4 linked regions of the Homo sapiens genome follow. The protein of the gene in region 1 purifies or fractionates together with the protein of each later gene. This does not show direct contact. Each region holds a gene or a part of one and is shown in the gene's direction. Other genes may lie near its edges. The genes, in order: ODAD3, IFT88, NSMCE4A and FBXL4.

Region 1 (7,466 bases):
CTACTTGGGAGGCTGAGGTGTGAGAATTGCTTGAACCCGAAGGGCAGAGGTTGCAGTGAGCCAAGATCACGCCACTGCACTCCAGCCTGGGCGACAGAGTGAGACCCTGTCTCAAAAAATATAAATAAATAAAAATAAATCATCATGCCTATGAACTACAAAAGGATCAGCTGGCAGGAATTGAGAACAGCTGTTCCCCTAGATGCCACAATCCCCACCCCTCCGTATTGCCTCATACTTGGCCTCCTTCTGTTGTATGCTTTTTTTTTTTTTGCTTTTTTTTTGAGACGGAGTCTCACTCTGTTGCCCAGGCTGGATTGCAGTGGTGCGATCTCGGCTCACTGCAACCTCTGCCTCCCGTGTTCACGCCACTCACCTGCCTCAGCCCACCGAGTAGCTGGGACTACAGGCGCCCGCCACCACACCCAGCTAATTTTTTGTATTTTTAGTGAGACGGAGTTTCACCATGTCAGCCAGGATGGTCTCGATCTCCTGACCTCGTGATCCGCCTGCCTCAGCCTCCCAAAGTGCTGGGATTACAGGTGTGAGCCACCGCGCCTGGCCTCCTTCCGTTGTATACTTTACCTGCCTGTGGGTGTTTCGGTTTTCAGGACCTGCTGCAGAGCGTGACAATGGAAAGTTTAGAGTCCAAGTGCCGGCTCTGCTATCTCCTATGTGACCCTGGGGAAGTCATTTCCCTTTCTAAACTTGAGTTCCCCCATCTGTTGAATCGGGAAACAATCCTACCTGCTTCCAGACTAGAGGGAAAGGTGGGGATTAGGATTCACAAGGCACCTGGCACAGACAGAGAACCCGATACAGAAAAGCAGAAGAGAGAGTGGGCCCGATTCACTGGGTGGAGCCAGGCAAAGTCTTGGGGTGGGGTGATGGGAGGGGTACTGTCACCCACGTACTTGCAGGTGTTCTCACAGATGACGCCGCTGTTGTACTCGTCTGTTCCATCGCAGCAGTCTGTGGCAGAGGCAGAAGCCAAGATCAGACCTGGCAGTGCCTCCTCCCTCCCTCCCTCTACCACCTTTCCAGAATCCTGGTGCATCTTCACTTACCACAAACACCATCGTTGACCCGGTTGGAGGGGATATACAGGGGCTTATAGCCAGTGTTGGTGCAGTGGAAGCTGCCATTAGGACAGGCAGCCGTGCCTGTGAGGAAGAAGGGAGGGAAGGTTTTCGGAGTCAGCTCAGGGACAGACATGTCCCATCCATCCACAGATAAGAGCCCCTGACCCACACTGCACACAGCACAAGAAAGGAAAGGAAACCAAAGGAAGGAAAGAGTTGTACACTGCACAGCCAGGGCTCGAAATAAAGCTCTCCAGTGCCGCCTCCTGCCTCTTCTCACTGAGGCCCTTCAAAACAGGGTCTCCACCTGGCACGGGGGCTCACACCTGTAATCCCAGCACTTTGGGAGGCCGAGGCGGGTGGGTCACCTGAGGTGATGAGTTTGAGACCAGCCTGGCCAACACGATGAAACTCCATCTCTACTAAAAATACGAAAAATTAGCCGGATGTGGTGGCATGTGCCTGTAATCCCAGCTACTCAGGAGGCTGAGGCAGGAGAATCGCTTGAACCCGGGAGGTGGAGACTGCAGTGAGCCAAGATCATGCCACTGCACTCCAGCCTGGGCGATAAGAGTGAAACTCCATCTCAAAAAAAAAAATTAAAAACAAAACAAAACAAGGCCAGGTACGGTGGCTCACGCCTGTAATCCCAACACTTTGGGAGGCCGAGGCGGGTGGATCACAAGGTGACGAGATCGAGACCATCCTGGCTAACACAGTGAAACCCTGTATCTACTAAAAATACAAAAAAAAACTAGCTGGGCGTGGTGGTGGGTGCCTGTAGTCCCAGCTACTCAGGAGGCTGAGGCAGGAGAACGGTGTGAACCCGGGAGGCGGAGCTTGCAGTGAGCCGAGATGGCGCCACTGCACTCCAGCCTGGGAAACAGAGCAAGACTCCGTCTCAAAACAAAAACAAAACCAAAGACACGGTCTCATCCAGGCACGGTGGCTCACACCTGTAACCCCAGCACTTTGGGAGGCCAAGGCAGGAGGATGACTTGAGCCCAAGAGTTCCAGGCTGCAGTGAGCTACGATCATGCCACTGTACTCCAGCCTCAGCAACAAAGCAAGACCCTGTCTCTTCAAAACACACAAAAACAAAAAGCCAGGGTCTCCCTTCACCTCTGTCTCCTGCTGGATTGCTCTTGGCCCCACCCTGTCTCCCACTTCTAGGGGTTTGCCCGTGTTGACCCCTCCATCTGCAGCACCTTCGGGATTCAACTGAAACCTCACCTCCTTGGAGGAGCCTTCTCTGACCCCGAGGCTTGGGAGGAGGACGACTCTGGGCTCCTCCAGCTGCCCGGGGCCATAACACTGACCACTGACTTCTGAGCTTGTTTCTGCCCACTCAAAGGGGAGCCAGCAGAGGTAGTATCTTGGTCACACAGACAGGGCCTGGCACTGAGCAGTGTTCAATAAACATCTGATGGATGAACAGAGAAAAGGCTCACCTGGCTCGTCAGAGCCATCTTTGCAGTCGCAATAGTCATCGTTGACCTGATCAAATGGGATGGTGGCCGAACCGTCCAGGCAGGTGAAAGGCTTGGACTCATCGTAGAAGTGATGATCTGCGGGGTACAGGAAGCTCAGCCCAGGGCAGGTAAGCGCCTTCTCCACCAAATACCACCTCTGTCCTCCCATCCCCACCAGCGGAGCACTACCGGGAAACTGAGTCAAAAGGCTGTAAATGCCTATCCCTAAGGCCCAATGTTGGCCCCTCCCACCTCCAGCCTGGCGGGAGGGTGAACAGGAGGACTCACTGGTGAGGGAGACGCCCCGGGGCCTCTTGACCTCCACGGCCCAGCACATGGGTAGCAGCAGCAGCAGCGGCAACAGCATCTCACCAGACGCTCTGAGGCCCGAAACGGGTTCTGTGGGAGGAAGCCTACAGCGGGGAGATGCGCTGTGTCTTCACGCTGCAGGAAGAAAGCGGATCCCGGTCAGTGGGAGAGGGCTACTTCCAGCCAATTGGATTCCTCCATCGCTTCCAGGCAATGAGGCCTCACTTTGTTTCCGATATGGGGGCGAGGGGCAGCGATCTCCCCAATCCTGGCCAGTCTCACTTTGCTCAAATCAATGGCGAGGATCTCAAGATCTCAAAACCTCCGCTCCCTGTGCCCAATTGTGACCCAATTCCCGCCAACAGACCAAAGGGATTAACAGCCTCCGCCGTCCACACCCACACATGCACCCTCCGGTTGCCCCCTGTAAGAAACTGAGGTGCCCTCCCACCCGCTCGTTCACACCTACACGAGGCCGGAGCAAAGGTCAGTATCCACCGCACCCCTCTTGTCCAGCAGCCGCGGTTCCTGCTGCAGAAAGAAAGCGGAAATTTCTGGACCCCGTCACTTCCGGTCGTACGTTCCGCACCGGGAACGGAGACTCAGGGTCGCCATGTTGGGAGAGGCAGGAGTGGGGGCGGTGCCAGAGCCGAGACGGCCATCTTGGGCAGGACTGTGAAACCTTAGAGAGGATAGTTCTGAGGGCTAGCTCTTAATGGCGGCGCAGCGTACCTCCATCTTGGGAGTGGCGGCTTCTCAAGCCGGAAAGAAAGTTCCTGAAAAATGCCCGCGAACCCCCAGGGGCGGGATAAGGTTGGGGGAGGTAGGGAAACGGAATGAGCACGTGACCCCAAAGTGTCCAGACCCTCCGTCCTGCGGCGCGGCTCTACCCCGCCCACTGTTGGGACCGCCCCTCTATGCAGCCTCAGCCAATGAGAACGCAGTGTCAGCCACGGAACGCGGGTGATCTCCATGGAAACAGTGGAGAGAGACGGGGAGGCGGTTACCTGGCAACCGAGAGATGCGGAGCGCAACCACCTAGCGGTCGGAAAGTGCATTTTTCAGAGCCCTAGGAATCCGAGCTGACGGATCCCTGACAGGGGCGACTGACTCCTAGTTATCCCCCTAACCCCTAGGGGCCTTCAGCCCCAACCCCATCATGACATCTCCTCTGTGCAGGGCGGCCTCCGCCAACGCCCTGCCTCCTCAGGACCAGGCTTCGACGCCCTCTTCCAGGGTCAAGGGCAGGGAGGCTTCGGGCAAACCCAGCCACCTCCGAGGCAAGGGCACAGCCCAGGCGTGGACCCCAGGCCGTTCCAAGGGAGGATCCTTCCACAGAGGTGCAGGGAAGCCCTCTGTGCACTCTCAGGTGGCTGAGTTACATAAAAAGATACAACTGTTAGGTAAGATGGCTCCAGAGGGTACAGAGGGTCAGGGGTCAACAGTGCCCATCCAATCTTCATGGTGTGACAAAGGTATTTCTCCAGCATGAGTCTAGGTAAACCGTTTCTGGGCAAAAACTCATACTTAGTTCATGTTTTTCCTTCTCTGTCTCTTAAAACTTCTCATGGGTTCAGAACCGACTGAACTGTACTTCATACTTTCTTGTAATTTATTTTCTCTATTTTTTTTTTTTTTTTTGGCAGAATCTCACTCTGTTGCCAGGTGGGAGTGCAGTGGAACGATTTCGGCTCACTGCAACCTCCGCCTCCCGGGTTCAAGCGATTCTCCTGCCTCAGCCTCTTGAGTAGCTGGGACTACAGGCACACGCCACCACGCCTAACTAATTTTTGTATTTTTAGTACAGAGGGATTTCACCATATTGGCCAGGGTGGTCTCAATCTCTTGACCTCCCAAACTGCTGGGATTACAGGCGTGAGCCCGCCTCGGCCTCCCAAACTGCTGGGATTACAGGCGTGAGCCACTGCACCCGCGTTTTTTTTTGTTTTGTTTTTTGTTTTTTGAGACAGGGTCTTGCTCTGTCGCCTAGGCTGGAGAGCAGTGGCATGATCTCGGCTCACTGCAACCTCTGCCTCCAAGGTTCAAGCGATTCTCGAGCCTCAGCCTCCTGACTAGCTGGGACTATAGGTGCGTGCCACCACACCTAATTTTTATATTTTTAGTAGAGACTGGGTTTCACCATGTTGGCCAGGCTGGTCTCGAACTCCTGATCTCAAGTGATCCACGGCCTTGGCTCCCAAAGTGCTGGGATTACATGTGTGAGCCACCGCGCCCAGCCTTCTTTCTTTCTGACAGGGTCTTGCTCTGCTGTTGAGGCTGGAGTGTAGTGGTTGGATAACAGTTCACTGCAGACTTGACCTCCTAGGCTCAAGCGATCCTTCCACCTCAGCCTCCTGAGTAGCTGGGACTACAGGCATACACCACTGTGCTTGGCTAATTTTCTTACTTTTTGTAGAGATGGGGTCTCACTATGCTGCCCAGGCTGGTCTCAAACTCCTGGGCTCAAGCAATCCTTCCTCCTCAGCCTCCCAAAGTGCTGGGGTTACAGGCATGGGCCGCTGCACCTGGCCTGAGCATAGATTTTTAGAGCCAGATTTTCTGGGTTGGAATCCTGGCTCTGCATAATAGTTGTCCAACCTTGGGGGACTAAGAGTAACCTAATTGTTCTCAGTTTCTCGATGTGTGAAATGGGGATAGTAACAGTACAACATAGGTACCTGAAATGTGTAAAGTGCTTAGAACAGTGCCTGGCACATAGCAAAGTACCATAAGGTGTAAACCAGTGGTTCTTGTTGGAAAAGGGTTGGTTTGCCCCACAGGGGCCATTTGGCAATGTCCTAAGACATTGAGACCAGCATGGCCAACACGGTGAAACGCTGTCTCTACTAAAAATACAAAAAATTAGCCGGGCATGGTGGCATGGATGTCTGTTGTGGGTGTGTGTCTGCCACTGGCATCTAGTGGGCAGAGTTGAAGATGCTGCCCAACATTCTGCAAAACACAGGAGAGCACCCCACGGCAAATAATTATTCGGCCCAGTTGTTGGTCATCCTGAGGTTGCAGAATCCTTGTGTGTAAGCTATTATTATTGCTTTTGTTGATATTATTAAGAGGTAATCATGGCTGGGCGAGGTGGCTCACACCTGTAATCCCAGCACTTTGGGAGGCTGAGGTGGGCGGATCATTTGAGGTCAGGAGTTTGAGACCAGCCTGGCCAACATAGTGAAACCCCATCTCTACTAAAAGTACAAAAATTAGCCGGGCATGGTGGCGCACGCCTGTAATCCCAGCTACTTGGAAGGCTGAGGCAGGAGAGGGGCTTGAACCCAGGAGGTGGAGGTTGCGGTGAGCCAGGATTGCGCCACTGCACTCCAGCCTGGGTGACAGAGTGAGATTCCGTCTTAAAAAAAAAAAAGGGTAATCTTGCATGGTTGCTTGTGACCTTAAGCAGTTTAATCAGCCCAAGCCTCTGTCTTGTCATCTGTGCAAGGGGTATGATATGCGTATGCCATGGATACCTATTGGCACGTGATATATGGCATTCGGAAACCTCTTAGTCCAGCATCCAACACATAATAAATGCTCACAGTGAAGTACAGTTGACCGTTGAACACCATGTGTTCACATATATCATTCATCCTTTCAAGTTAAAAAAAATTGAGATGGGCAGGCCGGGCACAGTGGTTCATACCTGTAATCCCAGCACTTTGGGAGGCTGAGGCAGGAGGATTGCTAGAGGCCAGGAGTTCGAGACCAGCCTGGGCAACATAGTGAGATCCTTGACTCTACAAAAAATAAAGTAGCCAGATGTGGTGGCACATGCCTCTAGTCCTAGCTACTTGGGAGGCTGAGGCAGGAGGACTGCTTGAGCTCAGGAGGTTGAGGCTTCAGTGAGCAGTGATAGCACCACTGCACTTCATTCTGGGTGACAGAGCAAGACCCAGTCCCAAAAAAGAAAAGAAAAGAAAATACAACAGTCCTGGAATGCAAAACCTGAGTATACAGAGGGACAACTGTTTGTATCTGCAGGTTCCACAGGGCTGACTGTGGGACTTGAGTATGGAAGGATTTTGGGGTTTTTTGTTTTGTTTTGTTTTGTTTTTTGAGACAGAGTCTTGCTCTGTTGCCCAGGCTGGAGTGCAGTGGCAGGATCTCAGCTCAATGCAACCTCCACCTCCAGAGGTCAAGTAATTATTGTGCCTCAGCCTCCTGTAGCTGGGATTACAGGCACCCACCATCATGCCCGGCTAATTTTTTTTTTTTTTTTTTTTTGAGGCAGAGTCTCGCTCTGTCACCCAGGCTGGAGTGCAGTGGTGCGATCTCGGCTCACTGCAAGCTCTGCCTCCCAGGTTCACACCATTCTCCTGCCTCAGTCCCCTGAGTAGCTGGGACTACAGGTGCCTGCCACCATGCACGGCTAATTTTTTTTTTTTTTTGTATTTTTAGTAGAGGCGGGATTTCACTATGTTAGCCAGGATGGTCTCGATCTCCTGACCTCGTGATCCGCTCACTTTGGCCTCCCAAAGTGCTGGGATTATGGACGTGAGCCACCGTGCCCGGCCATGCCCAGCTAATTTTTGTATTTTTGTAGAGATGGGGTTTCACCATGTTGGCCAGGCTGATCTTGAACTCTTGACCTCAG
Region 2 (7,549 bases), on another chromosome or scaffold:
TAAAATTTGTCTTTTTTTTTTTTTTTTTTTTGAGACTGAGTCTTGCTCTGTCGTCTAGGCTGGTGTGCAGTGGCATGATCTCAGCTCACTGCAACCTCCACCTTCCAGGTTCAAGTGATTCTCCTGCCGTAGCCTTCCAAGTAGCTGGAACCACAGGTGCGCTCCACTACGCCCGTCTAATTTTTTGCATTTTTAGTAGAGATGGGGTTTCACCATGTTGACCAGGCTGGTCTGGAACTCCTGACCTCAAGTGATCCACCTGCCTCAGCCTCCCAAAGTGATGGGATTACAGGCATGGGCCACCACGCCTGGCCAAATTTGTCTTTTTAAATAATTGTGGTTATTGCTTTATTCATTTGTTTATTGCTTTATGAAGCCCTTCTTAACTCAAGATTATAAATCATTTTTCTGTATTTTCTTTTCATACTCTTCTTATAGCTTTGTTTTTTCTGTTGAGTTTCAAAATTTTGAGTTCATTTTTTATGAAATAAGAATCTACATTTAAAAAAATTAATGGCCAGGTGTGGTGGCTCATGCCTGTAATCCCAGCACTTTGGGAGGGCCAAGGCAGGCGGATCATGAGGTCAGGAGATCGAGACCATCCTGGCTAACACAGTGAAACCCCGTCTCTACTAAAAATATAAAAAATTAGCCAGGCGTGATGGCGGGCGCCTGTAGTCCCAGCTACTCAGGAGGCTGAGGCAGGAGAATGGCATGAACCCAGGAGGCGGAGCTTGCAGTGAGCCGAGATTGTGCCACTGCACTCCAGCCTGGGCGACAGAGCGACTCCGTCTCAAAATAAATAAATAAATAAATAAATAAATAAATAAATAAATACAAATTAATGTATAGTCAGTTGTTCTGGCACCACTTATTACTAGCACTTTCCTCCCCACTGATTTTAAATGTCTTTAACTAAACTCTATAGTTGAGTGCATTTCTGAACTGTTTATTCTGTTCTATTGGTCTGTTTGTCTATTCCTGCCCCCTACCACACTTTTAAAATCACTGAAGCTTTGTAGCATCTTTTGGTGTCTGCCAGTGGAGAATCCCCACCCTAACATTATTCTTTAAAAAAATCCTCAGTTGGCCGGGTGTGGTGGCTCATACCTGTAATCCCAGTACTTTGGGAGGCTGAGGCAGGTGGATCGCTTGAGGCCAGGAGTTCCAGACCAGCCTGAGCAACATGGCAAAATCCCGTCTCTACTAAAAATACAAAAAATTAGCTGGGCGTGGTAGCACGTGCATATAATCCTAGCTACTTGAGAGGCTGAGGTGGGAGAATCACCTGAGCCTGGGAGGTCGAGGCTGCTGTGAGCCATGTTTGTGCCACTACACTCCAGTGTGGGCAGCAGGAGTGAGACCCTGTATCAAAAAACAAAAACCTGAGTTCATCTTCATTTTCTCTTCTGGATAAATATTTTCATATATTTTGAGATTTATTCTGTTATGTTAAATAAATTAATACCAATAATGATACTTATAGATTTTCTTTTTTTTCTTCTTTTTTTAAGGCCTTACCTATGAGAAACTAAATCGGCTAGATGAGGCTTTGGACTGTTTCCTGAAACTTCACGCAATCCTACGAAACAGTGCCGAAGTTCTTTACCAGATAGCAAATATGTATCTTATTTGAAAACCTTAGGGACAGTTATTAATTCTCTCAATTGGTGATTGAAGATCAATTATTAAATAAGTTTAACTAATGAAGTAATTGATGAGGATAATATTTGAAGTAAGTGATGAGGATAATCTGGCAGATTATTGTGTGATAAATATCATTTGAGTAATCCTATTTTAAGATGTAGTTTGCATCGAAAGAGGAATTAATGGTTAAAACTATTATTTATTAAATTTTGAAAATAACTGAAGTAATTAGGACATTTTCGGTACATATAAGCCATTCATTGAAAGTCAATTTGGTGCTTTAGAACGTTGTATTAATTCTGAAGCTTGTAGGGTATCATTGAAGCACTAACTTACTAAATAAAATACTGTTTATTACTGATTACTATTGATTGAATTTGGATAATTTTTCTTACTTTTTTAGCTGGCCTGTAGATATAATGAGGTCTCCAAAGACTGTTACCCTCTAAAATTATGTAATTCTTCATATGAACTCATTCATTCTGTTCATTTAATAGTCATTTATTGAATGTATACTATGTGTATCAGTATTATGTTTCAAACTCAGGGGAATGTAGAACTACAAAATGTTGCGCTAATATCAGTTTCTTCCACAACACTTAGCTTTCTTAATAAGCCCTGCTCTTGGTTAGAAAAGCAGAAATGTGTTAATGTTTTTAATGCTTTTCATGCTATTTGAAAAGCACTTTTAATTTCTCTCCTTATTTTGGTAAGCTTTGGCCACAACATTGGGAAGAGTTAAACATCTTAGGTAGATTTTCAACTTACTGTTATCTTGGTTTAAATTTTATACAAATATGTTTAGAAAATTTTATATGTTGTGAGGTGTACCATTAATAATTTTAAGTACTATCTGCTGTACTTTTGATAAAGAATTTTATTGAAAAATTTTAGTTTTAGGCCAGGCACAGTAGCTCACACCTGTAATCCCAGCACTTTGGGAGGCCAAGGCAGGCGGATCATTTGAAGTCAGGAGTTCGAGACCAGCCTGGCCATCATGGTGAAACCCCATCTCTACTAAAAATACAAAAATTAGCCGGGTGTTGTGGCAGGCACCTGTAATCCCAGTTACTCCCGAGGCTGAGGCAGGAGAATCACTTGAACCTGGGAGGCAGAGGTTGCAGTGAGCCAAGATAGTGCCACTGTACTCCAGCCTAGGTGCAGAGCTAGACTATCTCAAAAAAAAATTAGTTTTAGAGCAGATAGCATCATAGTTACTCCTGTTAGTCTTTTTGTTCTGTTTTGTTCATTTAATTTCTCTGAAACTGCCAGTGTCATTATCTTTTACCACCCAGTTCATGATCAGCTTGGATCCAGTCAAGCAACTGATGTATTTGAGACTGTTTGAGTACATTTTCTTTTTTTTTTTTCTTGTGGTATCACACTTGTCATCGTTAAAAACAGTAGATCTTCTGGTGTCACTCTTGTCACCATTGAAAACAATGCTTCTTTTTCAATAAACTTTGAATTGGAATATTTTCATTTCACTGAGATATCTAATATGTATAAAATAAATAGTAATTAATCAAAAAGTACTGATATGAATAAATTATTTGTATATACACCGAAGACTTAGTAGGTACTAAAAGGAAGCTACAAAAAAAAAAAAAAACAACACTGTCCTTGGGTTTATAATCTAATTAGGGAAAACTCACAGGAAAAACACATGGAAATAATTTCCTTAATATGCTGAACATGTTAAGAAAAAGAATAACTGGATGCAACATTCAGGACATTTTTATTAAGGACAATTTTTGGACAATACTTTGAATAATTCTACCAGAAATTTGGGAGTTGATCTTAGTGGATAGTAATGGAGGAAAAGGGAAAGCAGGCTATATACATAGGGAGCAAGAGTGTTACCTCCACAGTACTGCTGCATTCCATCTCCACCCCTGAGATATCCAGAGGAAACAGTATACAATAGCACATTACTGTAGGCTAAGAAATATTGTTACTGTAATGTTTTTTAAGTTTGCTTATTGCTTAATGAATTTAGAAAACATGTTTTCCTTAACTGACATTGCATAAGATATGAATTAATGGAAAATCCCAGTCAAGCTATTGAATGGCTAATGCAGGTGGTCAGTGTTATTCCAACCGATCCTCAAGTTTTATCTAAGCTAGGAGAATTATATGATCGTGAAGGAGATAAATCTCAAGCATTTCAATATTACTATGAGGTAGGTGTGTTATCTTAATTTCCTTCTGTGTTTTAGCATTTTATGAATTGTTATAAAGAAGGCAGCAAGGCTTTAAAATTTTAGAAGATCTTACCAGTTTTAAAATGATTTATTTAAAATAAAGCATTCTTGGAAAATGAAGTTAGTTTTTGTTTTGTTTTGTTTTGAGATAGAGTCTTGCTCTGTCGCCCAGGCTGCTGCACAGTGGTGCAGTCTCGGCTCACTGCAGCCTCCTCCTCCTGGGTTTAAGCAATTCTCTTGCCTCAGCCTTCCGAGTAGCTGGGATTACAGGCGCCTGCCACCACGTGCAGCTAATTTTTGTATTTTTAGTAGAGGGGTGTTTTGCCATCTTGGCCAGGCCAGTCTCGAACTCCTGACCTCAGGTGATCTGCCTGCCTCAGCCTCCCAAAGTGCTGGGATTACTACCACGCCAGGCCTGAAGTTAGTTTTTTACTTGTTTTAATGAAAAAATGAAATAGGGCTGGGCATGGTGGCTCACGTCTATAATCCCAGCACTTTGGGAGACCAGAGTGAGAGGATTGCTTAAGACCAAGAGATGAAGAACAGCCTAGGCAACATAACAAGACCCCATCTCTACAAATAATAATAAAAGGACAGTCCTGGTGGCCCATACCTTTAATCCCAGCACTTTGGGAGGCCAAGGAAGGCAGATTACTTGAGGCCAGGAGTATGTGACCAGCCTGGCCAACATGAGGAAACCCCCTCTCTACTAAAAACACAAAAATTAGCCAAATGTGGTTGTGGCATGCCTGTAATCCTAGCTACTTAGGAGACTAAGGCACGAGAATTGCCTGAACCTGGGAGGCAGAGGTTGTAGTGAGCCAAGATCGCATTTACTACACTCCAGGCTGGGTGACAGAGCGAGACTGTCTTAAAATAATAATAATTAATAATATTAATAATAAAAAGAAGTACCAGTTCATTTTTCTCTTGAGGCACGATTTGCATCTCTTTTTTATTCTTTTAAATATTTAAATTGGACTCAGCTCATATATTGTTATATCAAAAGTATAGATAATTGAAAAGTGTGTCAAGCAAAGCTTAGGTTTTCTAAATATTATATAGTTTCAGAATTTACAAAGTACTTAGGACAGTTCATACTCCTTTATTAAGAAATTCCATATTGGATAAATTTATTCAATAGGTAAAGTATTCAAGAAGTAAATTATATGTTGCCATTGAAGTTGTATTGTTACATTCCATATTTGTTTTACAGTCATATAGGTATTTTCCTTGTAATATTGAAGTCATTGAGTGGCTTGGAGCCTATTACATTGACACCCAATTTTGGGAAAAAGCTATTCAGTACTTTGAAAGAGCTTCTCTTATACAGTAAGTAATCATTAGGATTTTATGTTTAGTTAATGTCATGTCTTGAGTTTTTTTAATCCCTAGAATTAGTATCTGATAGACCTAGTAAATTCAAGAACAGATGTTGATGGACATTCATAAATTATTTTTGTTTGTTTGTTGTTTGTTTGAGACGGAGTTTCGCTCTTGTTGCCCAGGTTGAAGTGCAATGGCGTGATCTCGGCTCACTGCAACCTCCGCCTCCCAGGTTCAAGCGATTCTCCTGCCTCAGCCTCCCGAGTAGCTGGGATTACAGTCACGCACCACCATGCCTGGCTAATTTTTTGTATTTAAGTAAAGACAGGGTTACACCATGTTGGCCAGGCTGGTCTCGAACTCCTGACCTCAGGTGATCCACCTGCCTCAGCCTCCCAAAGTGCTGGGATTACAGGCATGAGCCACCGCGCCCAGCCAAATTATTTTTATTTTCTTATATTTTATTCCATTTTACTTGGTCTTTATTGTGATAAATATATTTCCCTTTGCATAGAATTTTTTAAATATCCTCTTTAAGATACTTTTCTTTATGTATTTTTCTTACACCTCAGCAAACAATTATTGTTCCTTTATCAATCAGAAAATGACTTATCTCAGTCCTAGGACAAAGTTTCATCTCTAAAAGAGTCTTAATACAAGACAGTTTTGTTGGTTTCAATTTATAATTAATATATATGAAAAATTAAAATGTTTTCAGTGTCTTTAAGTTCGTATCAGAATGTGTTATACATATCTGATTCAAAACAATTCAAAAATAATTGGAATACATCATCTTCTGCTTTGTATTTGGCCATATTGAATTTTAAGAACAAATGCCCCTTAGAATAATTTGAATGATAAAGAAATGCTTAATAAGTGAAATGATTTCTGTTTGGAATTTCTATTAGGCAATTCATTTTGTGATATTTATTTCACATAAATTTCTTTTGAGAATTATAAAATTAATTACCAAGGATGAGGAGATAGTTTTAGTTTAATTATATCTTTAAGATTAAAGCTATTTCAGTAATACACTGTAAGCTTTTTAATTACACTTAATACTACTCTAACATTAGCCATTAGCTCATGCAACACTCTTCCTTCTTTGAGGCTCAGTCCGCCACTGTTCCATTTTTAACTCCTATTTGTAAATGTCAGATGTTGATTAACAGTCAGTCCCTTACCTTACCTAGTCTAGCTTATATTCTTCCTTTTCTTTCCATCACTATTCTAGTCCCACAAGTTTTGACCTCCCTAACTCCATTGATCTTTACCCTCTCTGTAGTTCAGTCACCTGACTCATCTGATTGTGATTATCACTAACACATTTACACCAATAAAATCTTTTTTTTTTTTTTTTTGAGACAGAGGACGGAGTCTTGCTTTGTCGCCCAGGCTGGAGTGCAGTGGCGTGATCCCGGCTCACTGCAACCTCTGCTTCCCAGGTTTAAGCGATTCTCCTGCCTCAGCCTCCAGAGTAGCTGGGATTACAGGCACATGCCACTGCACCCGGCTAATTTTTGTTTTTGTTTTTGTTTTTGTTTTAGTAGAAACGGAGTTTCACCATGTTGGTGAGGCTGGTCTTGAACTCCTGACCTCAAGTGATCCATTCGCCTCAGCCTCCCAAAGTGCTGGGATTACAGGCGTGAGACACCACGCCCAGCCTACACCAATAAAATCTTAAGTTACAATGTCCAGCTGTCTGAACATAACCTCTTACCTTTCCAACTTCCATACTCCCTATTTTCCAGTGCATTTTTCTTTGGTGATATTGAGACCTCCCCTCTTGACCTTCCCCTTATCTTGCAGTCTCAGCCTCCTTCTGACTTTAATTCTGAGCTTATCCATACTAGATTGCTTAATTGGTCACATCTTTTCCCTTTCTTGCTAACATTCCTGTTTTTTTTTTTCTCTCTCTCTCTCGCTTTACTACCCCATTTATTCCAAGAGATTTCAGTTCTTAGGTTATTCCAGCCATTGATTCCATTCCTTTACACAGGCTGTGAAATACTGTCAAAGGTAAATTATGTAACCAGGTGAATTGATGCTACACAAATCTGTGTGATATGAGCACTGCTCATCAGTCTTAAGTATTTCTCTCCCTCCTGTTTCTCTGATCTCTTCAATTCCCCTATGTATTTTATGCCTCGGTTTCCCAGAATATAGAAGCCTTTTTTAGAAACCTTCCTAACATTTCTCTCTACTTTTCTATAAACTTACTTCCACTTGCACCTGCTGTTATCTCCTTCTCAGTGACAGAAACTTATTCAATATACATTCATTATATTACATCTCTTTTGAGCATTTGTTTTCTATACCATATATCTTAATTTTTCACATTTTCTCTTTTTTACATGCTAAGCTTTGATTTG
Region 3 (7,549 bases), on another chromosome or scaffold:
CTTACTCTGATGTCAGCTTGTATATCACTGATGTCTGGTCTGAATTTGACTATACCATGCAAACTACTTTTAGTTAGTAAAGTTAGTTTGTTTAACAAACAACAGGCAAAAAAAATAAATGAAAGCATACTTTTCATTAGGTTGGGTTCAATATACGGAGAGTGCCCTGTGCCAAAGCCACGAGTTGATCGTCCAAGAAAAGTTCCTGTGATACAAGAGGAGAGGGCAATGCCTGCCCAGGTTTGTTTTAAAATGTTGCTTTTAAAAAAACACATTAAAGTTAAAATAGCTGTTAAAATAATGTGCATGCAATTTGGCCATTTTTTCTAAGTGTGCGGGTCTGGAGCCAGGTTTTGTCACTTAAATAATCATTTTATTTAAGCCTTTAAGCATTTTATTGGATTGGCTGCTTGTCTTTGTTTTAACTCATTTCTCTAGTTTTGATCAGTTCTCCGAAGCCAGGGTCAACCTCAGCACTGTCAACATTTACGGCTGGATAATGTTGGTTTGGGGAGCTGTCCTGCGCATTGTAGGATGCTTAGCGGCATCCCCAGCCTCTACCTGTTATATGCTAATAGCCCCCCCGACCCCTGAGTTGTGACAACCAAAAATGTCTACATGTGACAACAAATGTTCCCTGGGGAGGTGGGGGGAAAGTCACACCCACTCGAGAACCACTGTTTCTAAACCGCCCTTTTGTATTTTGCTATTTTATGTTCAACCTGAAAATGGTTAATCTGGTAATGTTACTATTCTATTAAGAAATTGATATGAAAATGTTACTGAGGCCAGGCACAGTGGCTTACGCCTGTAATCCCAGCACTTTGGGAGGCCGAGGCGGGCAGATCACAAGGTCAGGAGTTCGAGACCAGCCCGGCCAATACGGGGAAACCCCGTCTCTACTAAAAATACAGAAATTAGCTAGGTATGGTGGCAGGTGCCTGTAGTCCGGGCTATTCGGGAGGCTGACGCAGGAGAATTAGGAATCTAGGAGGCAGAGGTTGCACTGAGCCGAGATCATGCCACTGTACTCCAGCCTGGGCGACAGAGCGAGAGTCCGTCTCAAAAAAAACAAAGGTTGCCCGAGTGTGGTGGCTTACGCCTGTAATCCCAGCACTTTGGGAGGCCAAGGCGGGCAGATCCACCTGAGGTCAGGAGTTAGAAACCAGCCTGGCCAACATGGTGAAACCCTGTCTCTACTAAAAAGTACAAAAAATTAGCCAGATGTGGTGGTGGGTGCCTCTAATCCCAGCTACTCTGGAGGCTGAGGTAGGAGAATTGCTTGAACCTGGGAAGCGGAGGTTGCAGTGAGCCGAGATGGCACCACTGCACTCCAGCCTGGGCCACAGAGCAAGACTCCATCTCAAAAAAAAAAAAAAAAAGTTACTGAAACCAGAAAATCTGTTTTTTTTTAAACCATAATTTTTTTTGAGACAGAGTCTTGCCCTATCACCCGGGCTGGAGTGCAGTGGCGCGATCTCGGCTCACTGCAACCTCCGCCTGCTGGGTTCAAGCCATTCTCCTGCCTCAGCCTCCCAAGTAGCTGGGATTACAGGCAGGCACCACCATGCCCGGCTAATTTTGGTGTTTTTTAATAGAGACGGTTTCACCATAATGGCCAGGCTGGTCTCGAACTCCTGACCTTGTGATCCACCTGCCTCAGCCTCCTACAGCGCAGGGATTACAGGCGCGATGTCGGCTCACTGCAAGCTCCGCCTCCCGGGTTCATGCCATTCTCCTGCCTCAGCCTCCTGAGTAGCTGGGAGTACAGGCGCCTGTCACCACACCTGGCTAAGTTTTTGTATTTTTAGTAGAGATGGGGTTTCACCGTGTTAGCCAGGATGGTCAGCAAGACCCCATATCTAAAAAAATTTTTTTTAATTAGCCAGGTGTCTTAGACAAGGTAGAATGAATTAAAAAAAAAAAAATTAGCCAGGTGTAGTGGTGCACGCTTCTAGTGCCAGCTACTCAAGAAGCTGAGGTGGTAGGATCCCTTGAGCACAGGAGTCTGAGGTTACAGTGAGCCGAGATCATGCAACTGCACTCTAGCCTGGGTGGCAAAGCAAGACCCTGTCTCAAAAAAAAAAAAGAGTTCGGGTGTGCAAGAGAGAAGAAAAGGAGTTTGGGTGTGCAAGAGAGAAGAAAACGTTAATAGGCCAGTAAGTAGGTCTGTCAGCTTGATAATGACTTTTTTCAGTTAAGAAGAATGGAAGAATCTCATCAAGAAGCAACAGAGAAAGAAGTAGAAAGAATCTTGGGATTGTTGCAGACATATTTTCGAGAAGATCGTAAGTGTAACACCATTCAAAGTGGAGCAATTTGTATTTATCTGTTCACTGAGGTTACTTGTATTTAAAAGGCAATTTCAGCTGTATGTAATATTTGAATAAATACATATGCATTTTATGAGGATTCTTCTCCCCTTTAGAAATTTCATGTGAAAACTTTGAAGTTAACGTTTTCATTTTTATCTTTAAAAGATGGGGATTTTTTTTGTTACAAAATGAAATATGCCATTCAAGTGAGAAATGTCAAAAGTAGCTGTTCCACCTCCCCTCATTATAAAATGTAATGTGTATATTTTCAGATTATTTTATCAGTTTTATACACACCTACCTAAATAGTTTGTTTTGGCCGGGCGTGGTGGCTCACACCTGTAATCCCAGCACTTTGGGAGGCTGAGGTTGGGAGTTCGATACCCGCCTGACCAACATGGAGAAACCTCATCTCTACTAAAAATACAAAATTAACCGGGTGTGGTAGTGCATTCCTGTAATCCCAGCTACTTGGGAGGCTGAGGCAGGAGAATCGCTTGAACCCGGGAGACAGAGGTTGCGGTGAGCCAAGATCACGCCATTGCACTCTAGCCTGGGCAACAAGAGCGAAACTACATCTGAAAAAAAAAAGTTTGTTTTTTTCTTTTTTTCCAAGCTAATCATAATATGCACATTCTTCTGCTACGTGACTTTTCCATGTGGACATTCTTCCACATCATTTCATATAGATCTCCCTTGTTTTGTTCACTGATTCCCATTATATGGCTGTACTGTAAATATATTTAACAGATCCTCCATTAATGGATGATTAAGTTCCTTTTTTTTTTTTTTGAGACAGAGTCTCGCTCTGTCGCCCAGGCTGGAGTGCAGTGGCGCGATCTTGGCTCACTGCAACCTCTCCCTCCTGGGTTCACGCCATTCTCCTGCCTCAGCCTCCCAAGTAGCTGGGACTACAGGCACCCGCCACCACGCCTGGCTAATTCTTTTGTACTTTTAGTAGAACCTGGGTTTCACCGTGTTAGCCAGGATGGTCTTGATCTCCTGACCTTGTGATCCACCCACCTCGGCCTCCCAAAGTGCTGGGATTACAGGCATGAGCCACCGCGCCCGGCCAAGTTCCTATTTTTTTTTTTTTTTTTTAGGAGACAGTCTCACTCTTTCGCCCAGACTGGAATGCAGTGGCACCATCTCAACTCACTGCAACCTCCACCTCCTGGATTCAAGCAATTCTCCTGCCTCAGCCTCCTGAGTAGCTGGGATTACAGGCGCACGCGCCACCACATCTGGCTAATTTTTTTTCTGTATTTTTAGTAGAGACATTGTTTCGCCATGTTGGCCAAGCTAGTCTTGAACCCCTGACCTCAGGTGATCTGCCAGCATCGGCCTCCCAAAGTGCTGGGATTACAGGTGTGAGTGCCATGCCCAGCTGGATGATTAAGTTCTTTATAGCATTTTACTCTTGTATAAATTGCTGAAGTAAAAAATCTTAGTATGTAATTTTGTGCAGTTACACTTGTATTTCTGTAGCACAGCTTCTTAGAGGTGGTTTCCAGGTCAGTGGGCATACATGTTTTTAGTAGAGATGCCAAATTGGCCTCCAGAAGGGTTGGATTGATTTGCACTCCTGCAGCAGGAATGAGTACACATCCTTTCTTTGTCTCTGGCTAACGCTAGAGTGTACTGATATTAATGACAAGCAAAAATCAATTTTTTTTTCTCTTTTTGTCTATAGCTGATACCCCAATGTCCTTCTTTGACTTTGTGGTTGATCCTCATTCTTTCCCCCGTACAGTGGAAAACATCTTTCATGTTTCCTTCATTATACGGGTAAGATTAAAGATTATTTTTCTAATTGCTTTTATATGCTTTTAAAAGGCTACATAAGAAAAGCTGTAGAAGGGAGCTGGCAAAGGTATCTGTATACACTAGCCAGTATATGTTTCAGACCCATTGTAGCAAAACATTAATTGGCATATTAGGTAGAAGAAGCTAGCTAAAATTTTATATGCTTGCTTTTATGTTTTAGAAATTATTTAGAGAAAGAATTGGAAAAATTTGAATATGGAACTTTAGATTAGATAACAGTATGGTATAAATGTTAAATTTCCTGCATTTGATAGTTGTCATGTTGTATAATATCCTTGTTCTCAAGAAATACACACTGAAAGATTAGGGAAAAGAAGCAGGCCGCCTATCATTCTCACTTCATTCATAAATAATAATATGTAGAGTGATAAAGTAAACGTGGTAACTAACACTTTAACGACTGATGAATATGGGTAAAGGATATATGCCACGTGTTTATAGTAGTCTTATAGCCCTTTAAGTCTGAAATTATTTCAAAATTGGTTTTAAAACTCTACTCAGATATGTACCATGGAAATTTGCTTTAGACTATCTTTAATCTTACTTCAGGTTGCATTCCCACATGTAAGATGAATTTGATTATAACCTTAGAGAAAACCTATGTCTACCAACGTATTTTCTCAGAAATAATAACAAAGGCATATTTTGCCAGTGGTCCCAGTGACAGAATTATGCAGAATAAAATGTGGAGTATTCCAAAATATGTATAAATCAGTTAAAGAGACAAGATGAGTTTCACTTAAGAGATTCTCAGGATGGAGGCTGTGTCTGGGTGAAAGAGCTGATTAGAAACCCAAAGATACCCTGTGTAAATAAAAGATACTAGGGAAGTCTTATCTATATCATCACCTTATTATTGCTATGGTGTAATTTGATTTTCTGAGATACTGAATTTTCTGAGTAATTTTTTCCATCTAGTGCGTATAGGTTTGAGTCTTAAATGTTTGTCTTCTCCTAAAATCATGTTTTCGTTTTAGGATGGTTTTGCAAGAATAAGACTTGACCAAGACCGACTGCCAGTAATAGGTAAATGATACTATGTTTGGAAAAATTAGTTTTAGAGAAAATATATTTGTTAGTAGAATTTAAGTATTTTACTAAATGTAAATGAATTTTCAATGTAGATTAACTTTTACAATATTGTATCTTGCTCAACTACCTGAAGATACTGAAAACATGGCCAGCGTCTAAAATTTTGATGGATTCATCTATATCATTGATTCAACATCTGCTGTAAATATTAACAAAGAAATGATATAATTTCCCTCAGATCTTAATTTAGAAAGTTGGTGATTGCAGTCATTTTTGTAGTATCCCTCTTTCTAATCACGTTTTGTCAGATGCCGGCACCTTCTTTTCTCTTTGAGGTTCTATGAATCTTTCATTCTTACCTGAATAATTTCACACTCTCCATTACTCATGTCCTCCTAAGGTCTCCTGTGGAGAGTGAATATTTCCATCGCACTTACTTGCTACTTTCAATGTTCTCAATGTCCTATTGGACTCACTAGGGCTTAGCTCTGTGGTTGACACATAGATATGCAGATTTTCAAATGTCTGGAATGTGTTACTCTACTACATGTTTTTTGAAATGGAAACAGATGGAATGACTGGCTACTGTAATAATACTACAGCAGCTCCATAATGCATGAAATCCTAAAAAGTATGTAATATTATAAGTATCTTTTCAATACAGGTTTCATTGCTATTATTCATCAGTTTCCGTTTAGATTACCTGTTCCGATTTAATAACCTTTGATAAATTTGAAAAATTTGTCTTTCAAACAGAGCCTGTTAGTATTAATGAAGAAAATGAGGGATTTGAACATAACACACAAGTTAGAAATCAAGGAATTATAGCTTTGAGTTACCGTGACTGGGAGGTAAAGCTCTGCCTGTTGCCCCTGCATAGTTCTGACTCTGCCTTCACTTGCAGTAAGCCCAGTGCCTAAATGTTCATTATTGTCTGCCAGGAGATTGTGAAGACCTTTGAGATTTCAGAGCCTGTGATTACTCCAAGTCAGAGGCAGCAGAAGCCAAGTGCTTGATGCTAGCTGAAGGTAACCTTTTCAATGGGATGGCTACACAGTTCTATTAAAGTTCATTTGGCAATCCAAAGTATCCCTTTTCCCCATTCCAGTGAAATTTGAATTTTTGCCTCCCTGTAGTGCCCCATTCTTAGAACTGTGTGTAACAGGTGAGAAAGGGATAGTGGTTCTGCGTTCCCTTCTCTGGATTGATTAAATTTGTGCTGTTAAGATTTGCAGCTGAGGCCAGGCGTGGTGGCTCACGCCTGTAATCCCAGCACTTTGGGAGGCCAAGGCAAGCGGATCATGAGGTCAGGAGTTCGAGATCAGCCTGACCAACATGGTAAAACCCCATCTCTACTAAAAATACAAAAATTAGCTGGGCGTGGTGGCATGCACCTGTAATCCCAGCTACTCAGGAGGCTGAGGCAGGAGAATTGCTTGAACCCGGGAGGTGGAGGTTGCAGTGGCTGAGATCGTGCCACTGCACTCCAGCCTGGGAGACAGAGCAAGACTCTGTCTCAAAAAAAAGACTTGCAGCTGAAAGAAGCAGTGCAGGATTGTTCTTGGTTTGGTGGGTTTTGTTTTTGTTTTTGTTTTTAATAAAAAATAGGGAAGGGGTCTCACTATGTTGCCCAGGCTGGTCTCAAACTCCTGGGCTCAAGGGATGCTCCCATCTCAGCTTCCCAAAGTGCTGGGATTATAGGTATGAGTCACCATACCCAGCTGCTGCTTTTCCCCCAACAAACTGGTAAATTAGATAAGTGAAATATTGAATCCTCTCATCCATGTTGTTGTTCACCATCCCATTAGATTTGCTTATTTTATAAGTACAAAGCAGAAAAAGAGGATTAGGATAGAATTACCTTAGAATAATCTTGGTAAATTGGCATTTCTAAAATTTGTATTAGGCTATGAAAGAATTCTTCTTCATTTTTATGAAGGGTAACATTTCTAGAAAGAAATCTTAATAATGATCTGACATTTTGTAGTGCAGACAGTTGTGGGTGGGAATCAGAAGACCTAGATTCTATCGGCTATGCCCCTTACTTTATTTATTTATTTTTGCCCCTTACTTTAAAACCTTGGGCAAGTCACTTAATCTCACCCAACTTCTCTTTTTTTTTGAGACAGAGTCTTGCTCTGTCACCCCCAGGCTAGAGTGCAGTGGCACGATCTCAGTTCACTGTAATCTCTGCCTCCCCGGTTCAAGCAATTCTCCTGCTTCAGCCTCCTGAGTAGCTGGGATTATAGGCACCTGCCACAGTGACCAGCTAATTTTTCTATTTTTAGTAGAGACGGGATTTCACCATGTTGGTCAGGCTGGTCTTGAACTCCTGACCTTGTGGTCCGCCCGCCTCGGCCTCCCAAAGTGCTGGG
Region 4 (7,549 bases), on another chromosome or scaffold:
TCTTACCAACAAGAATTTATGAGATTCTTTCTAAAAATTCTAATATTCTCTGGATCTTACTTAAGGGAAAATCTTATAAAACAACCTTTTAATATGGATATGGTCCTGTAATTAAAAAAAAAACAAACCTAATGTTATGTTCCTGTCTGTTAATTAGTTAACATGGCTAAGTATTGTGAAGAACCTGAAAATTAAATTATCTTAATATACCCTTTCTAATGTTAACATTCTGAGAGCTACATGGGATTGTTTTATAAATGTTGTTATGTTGAAACTTAAGTATAAAATCAATATAAACTTTTTTTGTTTAAATTCAAAGAAATGCTCAATAATGAAATAATTAGACTTAAGTATAATAGTCCTCTGTGGCCTATTGTAACTATTATTATTTTTGCTTTAAGTAACCTTACATTTGAGAAATATTTTATTACTTTATTTTCTCAATGAGAATCTTTATCTGGGATTTGACCAAATGTTTTACATTTTCATTGACACATTCTTCACCTTTCCCTCAACTGATAGTTTTTAGTTTCTGATCACTTGGAACAGATTTTTACAGAAGTTGTATAATATCTTAATTTTTAAATATATTTAAAAATGTATAAGATATTTTGCCATGTAAGTTTGAATAGTTTTCTCCTTAATTGATAAAAGAAAAATTAGAAATTTGAATATTTTGCATTATTTTGTTTTTCACAATTTTTCATAGCAGACTTTTTTAAAAAAATATTTTAGGGTGCCATGATTATGTAGCAGTCTTTGGGTTTCTTTAGTGGTGAGACCATTTTCATTGCACAGGATAGATGGGCTTAAATGGCAGGAACATGACTAGAAAGTACATATTATATATATTTCAGTCAGCATGTTGCTACTGACAGGTGCTCAATGGTTGTTGGTATCCTTGTCAGCAAAGAGAATCCTTTGACATTAAAGTCACCAGCTCAATCCTGATTTGGGGTGACTCTATTGGCAGTTCCATCAAGCTGCAGCTGATCAGTGAATGTCAGAGCTGCAGCCATTCTTCAGGAGTGTCACCAGCCTGCTGCGGGTTTTTTGTCTTTTTGTTTTTGTTTTTGGAGGGAGGAGTGGTTTAGCTTGTCTTGTTGTTCAATTGTAGCCAGACTTTCAAATTGCTTACCTTTGGGAAATGAACCGAGAGGTCATAGGGAATATAGGTATCTTTAGGGCATCCAAAACCATACACAAAGTGATTACTTACATGGAGACTAGTAATGATTACCTTGACTCCAAGCCAATCAATGGTGGAGCCTCTGGGGACTCATTAAATGGCATTTGTGGACTCTGTAACCTAGCTTTTGAGCTGCATTTCAGGAAAAGCAGTGACAGCCTTTAATGTCTAATTGACCTCTTCTCTTTGTTTCACTTTCATTCACTTTCCATATTTGCCTCTGATGTGGTCCCTAATGGCAGCAAACAGCACTGCTCAGCATTTTGAACTTCTGTTCAGAGCTTCAGCACCTCAGTTTAGGCAGTTGTGTCATGGTAAGTGTTTGAGAATTCTTTATACTACTCAATTACTTGTTCTCTTTTTCTTCCTATGGGTGAAATGTATCCTGACTCACCCTACCCCACACACACCCACAGTTTTTCAGATTTATGGTTCTCTTCTTTGTCCCTTGCTTTCAAACATTTTTCTTAAATTGGAAAGTATGTCTTTGAAACACTGACATTATTTATCCATGAGAGCAAGGAAAGAAGTATAGTGTGGTGGAATAGAGTATAGTTCTGCCTCAAGCCAGATGTTGTCTCCGACAAGCTAATCACCTCTCTAGGTTTCTTCACAAACTAAGGTGTTAGTCATACCTAAATGCCGATAGTTCAGTAAGTTTTTCACTAAGCTCATTTTAGCTTTTAAATCCTGAGATACTTTTCTTGAAATTTTAATGATAATAGATAGGTTTATTTTATCTGTTTGTTTTTGTGTTTGTTTTACTGTCCTTACTGGTCAAAACAGAAAGATTAACACCCTATGTTGGAACTCTTTTTTGTGTGTGGAAATTTTACTGGTCTGTGAAATATAAAAGCCTAGGGACTGTTGGACTAGATAAGCTTCAAAGTCCTTCCAGATTTTTTTTTTTTTTTTTTTTTTTTTGAGATGGAGTCTTGCTCTGTTGCCCGGGCTGGAGTGCAGCGGCGCGATCTTGACTCACTGCAATCTCCGTCTCCCGGATTCAAGCAATTCTCCTGCCTCAACCTCCCAAGTAGCTGGGATTACAGGGATGTACCACTATGCCCGGCTAATTTTTTTGTATTTTTAGTAGAGATGGGGTTTCACCCTATTGGTCAGGCTGGTCTTGGGTTTCACCATATTGGGCAGGCTGGTCTTGGGTTTCACCATATTGGGTAGGCTGGTCTTGAACTCCTGACCTTGTGATCCGCCCGCCTCGGCCTCCCAAATTGCCGGGATTACAGGTGTGAGCCACTGCGCCCAGCCTAGTCCTTCCAGATTTAAAATACGATTTTATGTGCCCTTGAAAGAGCTCATGGAAAGAGTTAAATGTTTTAATCTAAACCACATAATTATATAGCTTTTAAATAATACTGAGATATAAAGGACAATAGAAATCTTGTGTGGAGAAGGTGTGCATGTGTGTGTTTGTGTGCACACATACCGTAAGTGAATCTTCCAGTGTAACTGACTGGAAGAATTCATTCCTCCTCACTTCATCCCCTGTTCCCTAAAACAATGTAGGTTTAGGAGATCCCCAGACCATTCCATTTCTGCCTTGCATTCACTTAGTAGGAAGACTTGAATTAGCAAAATGATTGCAAGATTCTAGAAAACTTCTGGTATGCTAGGGAGTATTTGCTTTAAGTAACCTTACATTTTGAGAAATATTTTATTAGAGTCAATAGACAGGGTCCCTGACCTAAAATGAGTACCATTTGAACACCTCTTAGAGCTCAGTGTGGCTTCAGAAATGCCTCAAGATTTGGCAGTGTAGACTAAGTAGGCCTCTTTTGATGACATATTTATCTCTGTGTCCCCATGGTCTTTAAAATCTTGTGGTTAGGTCTTATTAAACCCTAAGTATGGGCTCAGGCCATCTCAGTCTCTAGAAACAGTCTTGGGAGCCCACTAGATTTTCCTCACTTCTGGTCAAATTCTTTCCATAGTAAGCCATTTGATAGGCTTCTGTGGGTCTCTTCAGTGACTCTTCTTGATGGACCCGATGACATTTGATGGCAGTTTCTGTCACAACAAACCAGCCAGTTACTGCCACTTGGATCTTCCTTATTGCTAGCCTGCTCTCTTTAGATTGGTAAGGACCATTTAACTTTGCTTAGATGTACCTTATTCTGCTTGTTATTTACCTCCCCTTAAACTGGAGCAACATTCCTTAGAAAATCAAGCCTCTGGCCATAGACTCTTTACTGTTGGAATTATATATATGCTTATAATTGAAATTGTATTATTTTAAGTTAGCATTTTCCAGAGTTGACCCATGGAAAATTACCTCTAAAGGATAATCAATTTTAAAGGCTGTGTATTTGGGGGTGGAGTGGAGATTCCTAATGAAATTAGGAAGCCAGGTATGGTTGCTCAAACCTATAGTCCCAACTACTCTGGAGGCTGATGTAGGAGGATTGCTTGAGCCCAGGAGTTTGAGGCTGCAGTGAGCTATGGTTATACCACCGCACTCCAGCCTGGTCTTAGAGTTTTACAATGGTGTGTGCTACAACAAAGAAACTGTTTACCTTTGCTAAAACCAGTGTTTTCAAACCTTGCCTGACTACTGAACTCATTTTTCTATATTACATTTTCCATATTACATTTTATTGTTGACTGTCAATATAATAGCAATGTTTAGATTTGTGATATTTATGAAGCAACTGTTCACAGTATACATACATAGAGCACTGTGCTGACTTTCCCATGGTGATTGTGATCTATTATATACCTTCGCTGAGTATTCACCTCATGGCATACTTTCTCTGTAGTGAGTTTAATGTAGATACTAAATTAGTTGTGTCACTTTTTTTCTGAAACTAATCTTTGTGCCACAAGTGCCAGTTAGACAGATTTGCAGTGACAAGAACTTCTGAGGAGCAGTGTCTCACCTGTAATAAACCTGAATATTCTAGTCAATGCCGTAAACATGTTTTTAGGACTACTTAGAAATATTTATTTTTCCTCTTGATTGGGAAAGAGACAAATTTTATCTATTTCTTTTTACTTCTAAAAATGACTTTAAAAAGTTTAAATTCCACTATTATATAATGCTGATTGAAGTAATTTAAAGTTGCCTAAATTAAAGAATCCTAAGACCTACCTGCTATTTTCTTAAGTTTCCTACTAATTATGTGATCCTGGTTAGGTCACTTAAATTCTTGCTGATAGTTCCTCTGTGACATTTGCCCTATTTTTAAAATTAGATAATGAATAAGAAAATAAATATGTCTAATATTTTTGGGGAAAAAAGAGTCCTGCATAATATCTAAAATTTAGAAGGAATTATAGTTAATAAAGGAGGGATAGGTTGACTTTGTTCCAGTAAAAAGTATTTAGTTTCATTTTTATTTTCCCAGCCCTGAATTTGGCATGAGTAGTGCTGTGATAATTTCACAACAACAACAAAAAACTCTTGAAGGAATTTCTCACTGTGTTCTATGCTAGTAGAGAATTTGTTCAAATGCTGCTGAGATTGCCCAGGCACAAATTGGGCACAGTCAGAATCATAGGTTTCATAAAGTTTTTAAATTTTTTTTTTCTAAGTAAGCTAATTGGCTGCCCTAATTATCAAACCCACAGTTTTGTATTGTTCAGGTATACTCACGTAAGGAGATATGTTCCCCCAAACCTGTTTCTCATAGACTTCCGCATGATTCCACCATACATACACTGACATCCAGAACCTTAGAAATCATTACCTCTATATCTAATCTGTCAGCCTTTGGTTCTAACTCAAAAATGCAGCCCCAAATCTGTCGGATTTCTTCATTCCATCATTGCCACCTTAATCCAAGTCCCTGTCATCTGTCCTTTACACTGTTGCAGACCTCTTCAATGAGCTTCCTTCTCCGTTCCTCCCCACTATAGGCCCATCCTCCAGACAGAAGCCAGAGGTGGTTTTGTGTCAGTTTTTATGTAAATAATAATATGTCACTCCTTTGCTTAGAACCCTCCATTGACTTCCTTAGTACTTGAAAGAAAAATCTAACTCCTTCATGGTCTAAATGTCCTGGCCACTGCGTGACTCTGCCCTCCATAGCCCGTCCTCTCCCTCACCACCCTTGGACTGTATGGATCTCATTTTTGTTCCTCGAATGCATCAACCTCATTCCTGGAGATTTCAGCAATTACCACCTCTTCCCTCAACCCGTGACACTCTGATCACTCTCACATCACTCTGTTTTATTATTTTCCCACTATATGTCACTCTTTGAATGTATTTTTTCCTTAATTAGTCTGTGTGTCTTTCCTAAAAATATGGACAGTGTCTCCTTTTTTCAGTTTACTGCTGGTCCTAGCATCTGGAGTGGTGCGTAGATGTTTGTTGAAAATACAATTAAACAAAAGAACAAAAAGAAATAATCATTGTAATTGTTTACTATTTTGTTTCCTTTTGATAATTTTCCTTGTGATAATTTTAATATCTGATTTTAGCAAAATCAAATGAACCTCTTAAAATAACCTATTTAAAGAAACATTATTAAAGCATGTAAAGCCCAATAACTGAAATGTTTAATCCTTGATTAGTAGAGTCTTGTCCTGTAATCATGAGGTAAGCACTGGACACCTCCAATAACTGACAGTTGATTAACATATTGTAATCTAAATTATTTTCATGTTGTATATGCAGTCCCCAAATGCCTCATTTAAGCCAAAACTAGTATCCTTATTAGTATTATCAGCATTTCCACATAGTGTTTTAGAGCCTACCAGATACACATCAGGGAGATCATATATACTTGCCAAAGTATATTAGCCATATATAAAACGGAGGAAAGTAGGTGCTGTCAATGAGTAGCAGCAGCAAGGTTGAAATGGTGGGCATAAAAGAAGAACATATAATCCTTTAATTCTTCATGAGAGACTGAAGACATAGACTGCTTTGGGATTTAATTCATTAACATCTTCTGTCTGGAGTGCTCTTAAATGGATTTTTAAATAAATGAGTACTCCTGGCTGTTTTATGAAACAGTGGCAGATCCGTGAGGTCAGTGGGCAGATCTGTATTAACAAGGATGTGGATTTGTTTACATGGAAGCAAAGCAATAGGTTATAATTAAGAATCTGACTTACTCTAAACAGTTTGCATGTCTGAGCATAACATGTAAAAGATTGGAATTATTTGATTTCCAGATTGAAGACTATGATGTGATAGCTAGCATGATAGGAGCCAAGTGTAAAAAACTCCGGACCCTGGATCTGTGGAGATGTAAGAATATTACTGAGAATGGAATAGCAGAACTGGCTTCTGGGTGTCCACTACTGGAGGAGCTTGACCTTGGCTGGTGCCCAACTCTGCAGAGCAGCACCGGGTGCTTCACCAGACTGGCACACCAGCTCCCAAACTTGCAAAAACTCTTTCTTACAGCTAATAGATCTGTGTGTGACACAGACATTGATGAATTGGCATGTAATTGTACCAGGTTACAGCAGCTGGACATATTAGGTAAGGTTACAATATATAAATTTGTTTTAAATGTCTGTTTCCTTGACAGAAAAGCCAATCTCAGACTTTTTGTTAGGAAAAAGAAAATTTTTGGATACAATAAAAATTTTATCCTGATAAGATGGCTTGGTTTGATAGGAAATGCAAGATAGATCAGTTAATATAGGGAATAATTATATATGTACTTTAATAAAATAGTGAGGACAATAACAATTTTATAGTTGAAACTGTAAAAAACTATAACCATTAATTCTTGGTCTACTTGTAAGAGTGAGAATTTACATGAGCTGCGCTCTCTATTTTTATTAAGGAGAGAAGAAATTAATTCATTTGTATAATGAATTCAAGCTAGTTTTTTTTAAGTTTCTTAATTAAAATTCTTGATTAAGGAATATCGTGAAATCTTTATCCCTGATAATTCTAGCGTTTAGGAATAGTTCTACCCCAGGCAGATCTATTGAAAATCTTTTCCAGCTCTGGGATTTCTTGAATCCTTGCTGCATTCATCAGAAAGGAACCCTGTGTAATTTTGTTGCTTCTTACTTTTAGCCAGGGGTGCTAGCAGTGTCACAGTAGTTATCATTGTCCACACAATTGATACTTTGTGAAGTCATATCGCACTTGCACATTTTACATCAAATGCATGGTGAAAACCATTTTGAACTGGGGTGACAGAAATAGGAAAGTCTGGAGGAGCTGATTTGAAGGGGTAGGAGGTAGGAATGAAGATAGTGGGTAGGATATTGGCAAGATTCAGGTCCTAGATGCTAAATTGGCTGGAAAATTCAACTTTTACTTTTTTAACAGAACCATTTCAATATGAAGTCATGTTTGAAAAAATGATTTTAATTTGTAAAGGGTTATTTTAAGTTCATTACAAACAATAAATCATGGATGGATTCATTGTT

The links.
Region 2: the proteins of ODAD3 (region 1) and IFT88 purify together in Homo sapiens (affinity purification with mass spectrometry; 3 studies listed by BioGRID and IntAct, with this or other methods). This does not show direct contact.
Region 3: the proteins of ODAD3 (region 1) and NSMCE4A purify together in Homo sapiens (affinity purification with mass spectrometry; 3 studies listed by BioGRID and IntAct, with this or other methods). This does not show direct contact.
Region 4: the proteins of ODAD3 (region 1) and FBXL4 purify together in Homo sapiens (affinity purification with mass spectrometry; 3 studies listed by BioGRID and IntAct, with this or other methods). This does not show direct contact.

The regions. Positions count from the first base shown.
Region 1 is NC_000019.10:11,431,573-11,439,038, reverse strand, and holds the start of ODAD3 (outer dynein arm-docking complex subunit 3), read left to right. Parts: upstream 1-3,917; 5' UTR 3,918-4,022; coding exon 4,023-4,266; intron 4,267-7,466. Other genes in the region: PRKCSH (glucosidase 2 subunit beta isoform 3 precursor), read right to left, coding at 915-972, 1,068-1,163, 2,534-2,650, 2,843-2,921. UniProt on the Homo sapiens protein: Component of the outer dynein arm-docking complex (ODA-DC) that mediates outer dynein arms (ODA) binding onto the doublet microtubule. Involved in mediating assembly of both ODAs and their axonemal docking complex onto ciliary microtubules.
Region 2 is NC_000013.11:20,639,776-20,647,324, forward strand, and holds part of IFT88 (intraflagellar transport protein 88 homolog), read left to right. Parts: intron 1-1,514; coding exon 1,515-1,623; intron 1,624-3,679; coding exon 3,680-3,830; intron 3,831-5,067; coding exon 5,068-5,183; intron 5,184-7,549. UniProt on the Homo sapiens protein: Positively regulates primary cilium biogenesis. Also involved in autophagy since it is required for trafficking of ATG16L and the expansion of the autophagic compartment.
Region 3 is NC_000010.11:121,957,977-121,965,525, reverse strand, and holds part of NSMCE4A (non-structural maintenance of chromosomes element 4 homolog A), read left to right. Parts: intron 1-140; coding exon 141-240; intron 241-2,197; coding exon 2,198-2,288; intron 2,289-3,418; coding exon of another isoform or gene 3,419-3,525; exon of another isoform or gene 3,526-3,773; intron 3,774-4,008; coding exon 4,009-4,103; intron 4,104-5,119; coding exon 5,120-5,168; intron 5,169-5,307; coding exon of another isoform or gene 5,308-5,333; exon of another isoform or gene 5,334-5,927; intron 5,928-5,930; coding exon 5,931-6,025; intron 6,026-6,115; coding exon 6,116-6,190; 3' UTR 6,191-6,202; intron 6,203-7,549. UniProt on the Homo sapiens protein: Component of the SMC5-SMC6 complex, a complex involved in DNA double-strand breaks by homologous recombination. The complex may promote sister chromatid homologous recombination by recruiting the SMC1-SMC3 cohesin complex to double-strand breaks.
Region 4 is NC_000006.12:98,874,507-98,882,055, reverse strand, and holds part of FBXL4 (F-box/LRR-repeat protein 4), read left to right. Parts: intron 1-1,431; coding exon 1,432-1,503; intron 1,504-6,328; coding exon 6,329-6,641; intron 6,642-7,549. UniProt on the Homo sapiens protein: Substrate-recognition component of the mitochondria-localized SCF-FBXL4 ubiquitin E3 ligase complex that plays a role in the restriction of mitophagy by controlling the degradation of BNIP3 and NIX mitophagy receptors.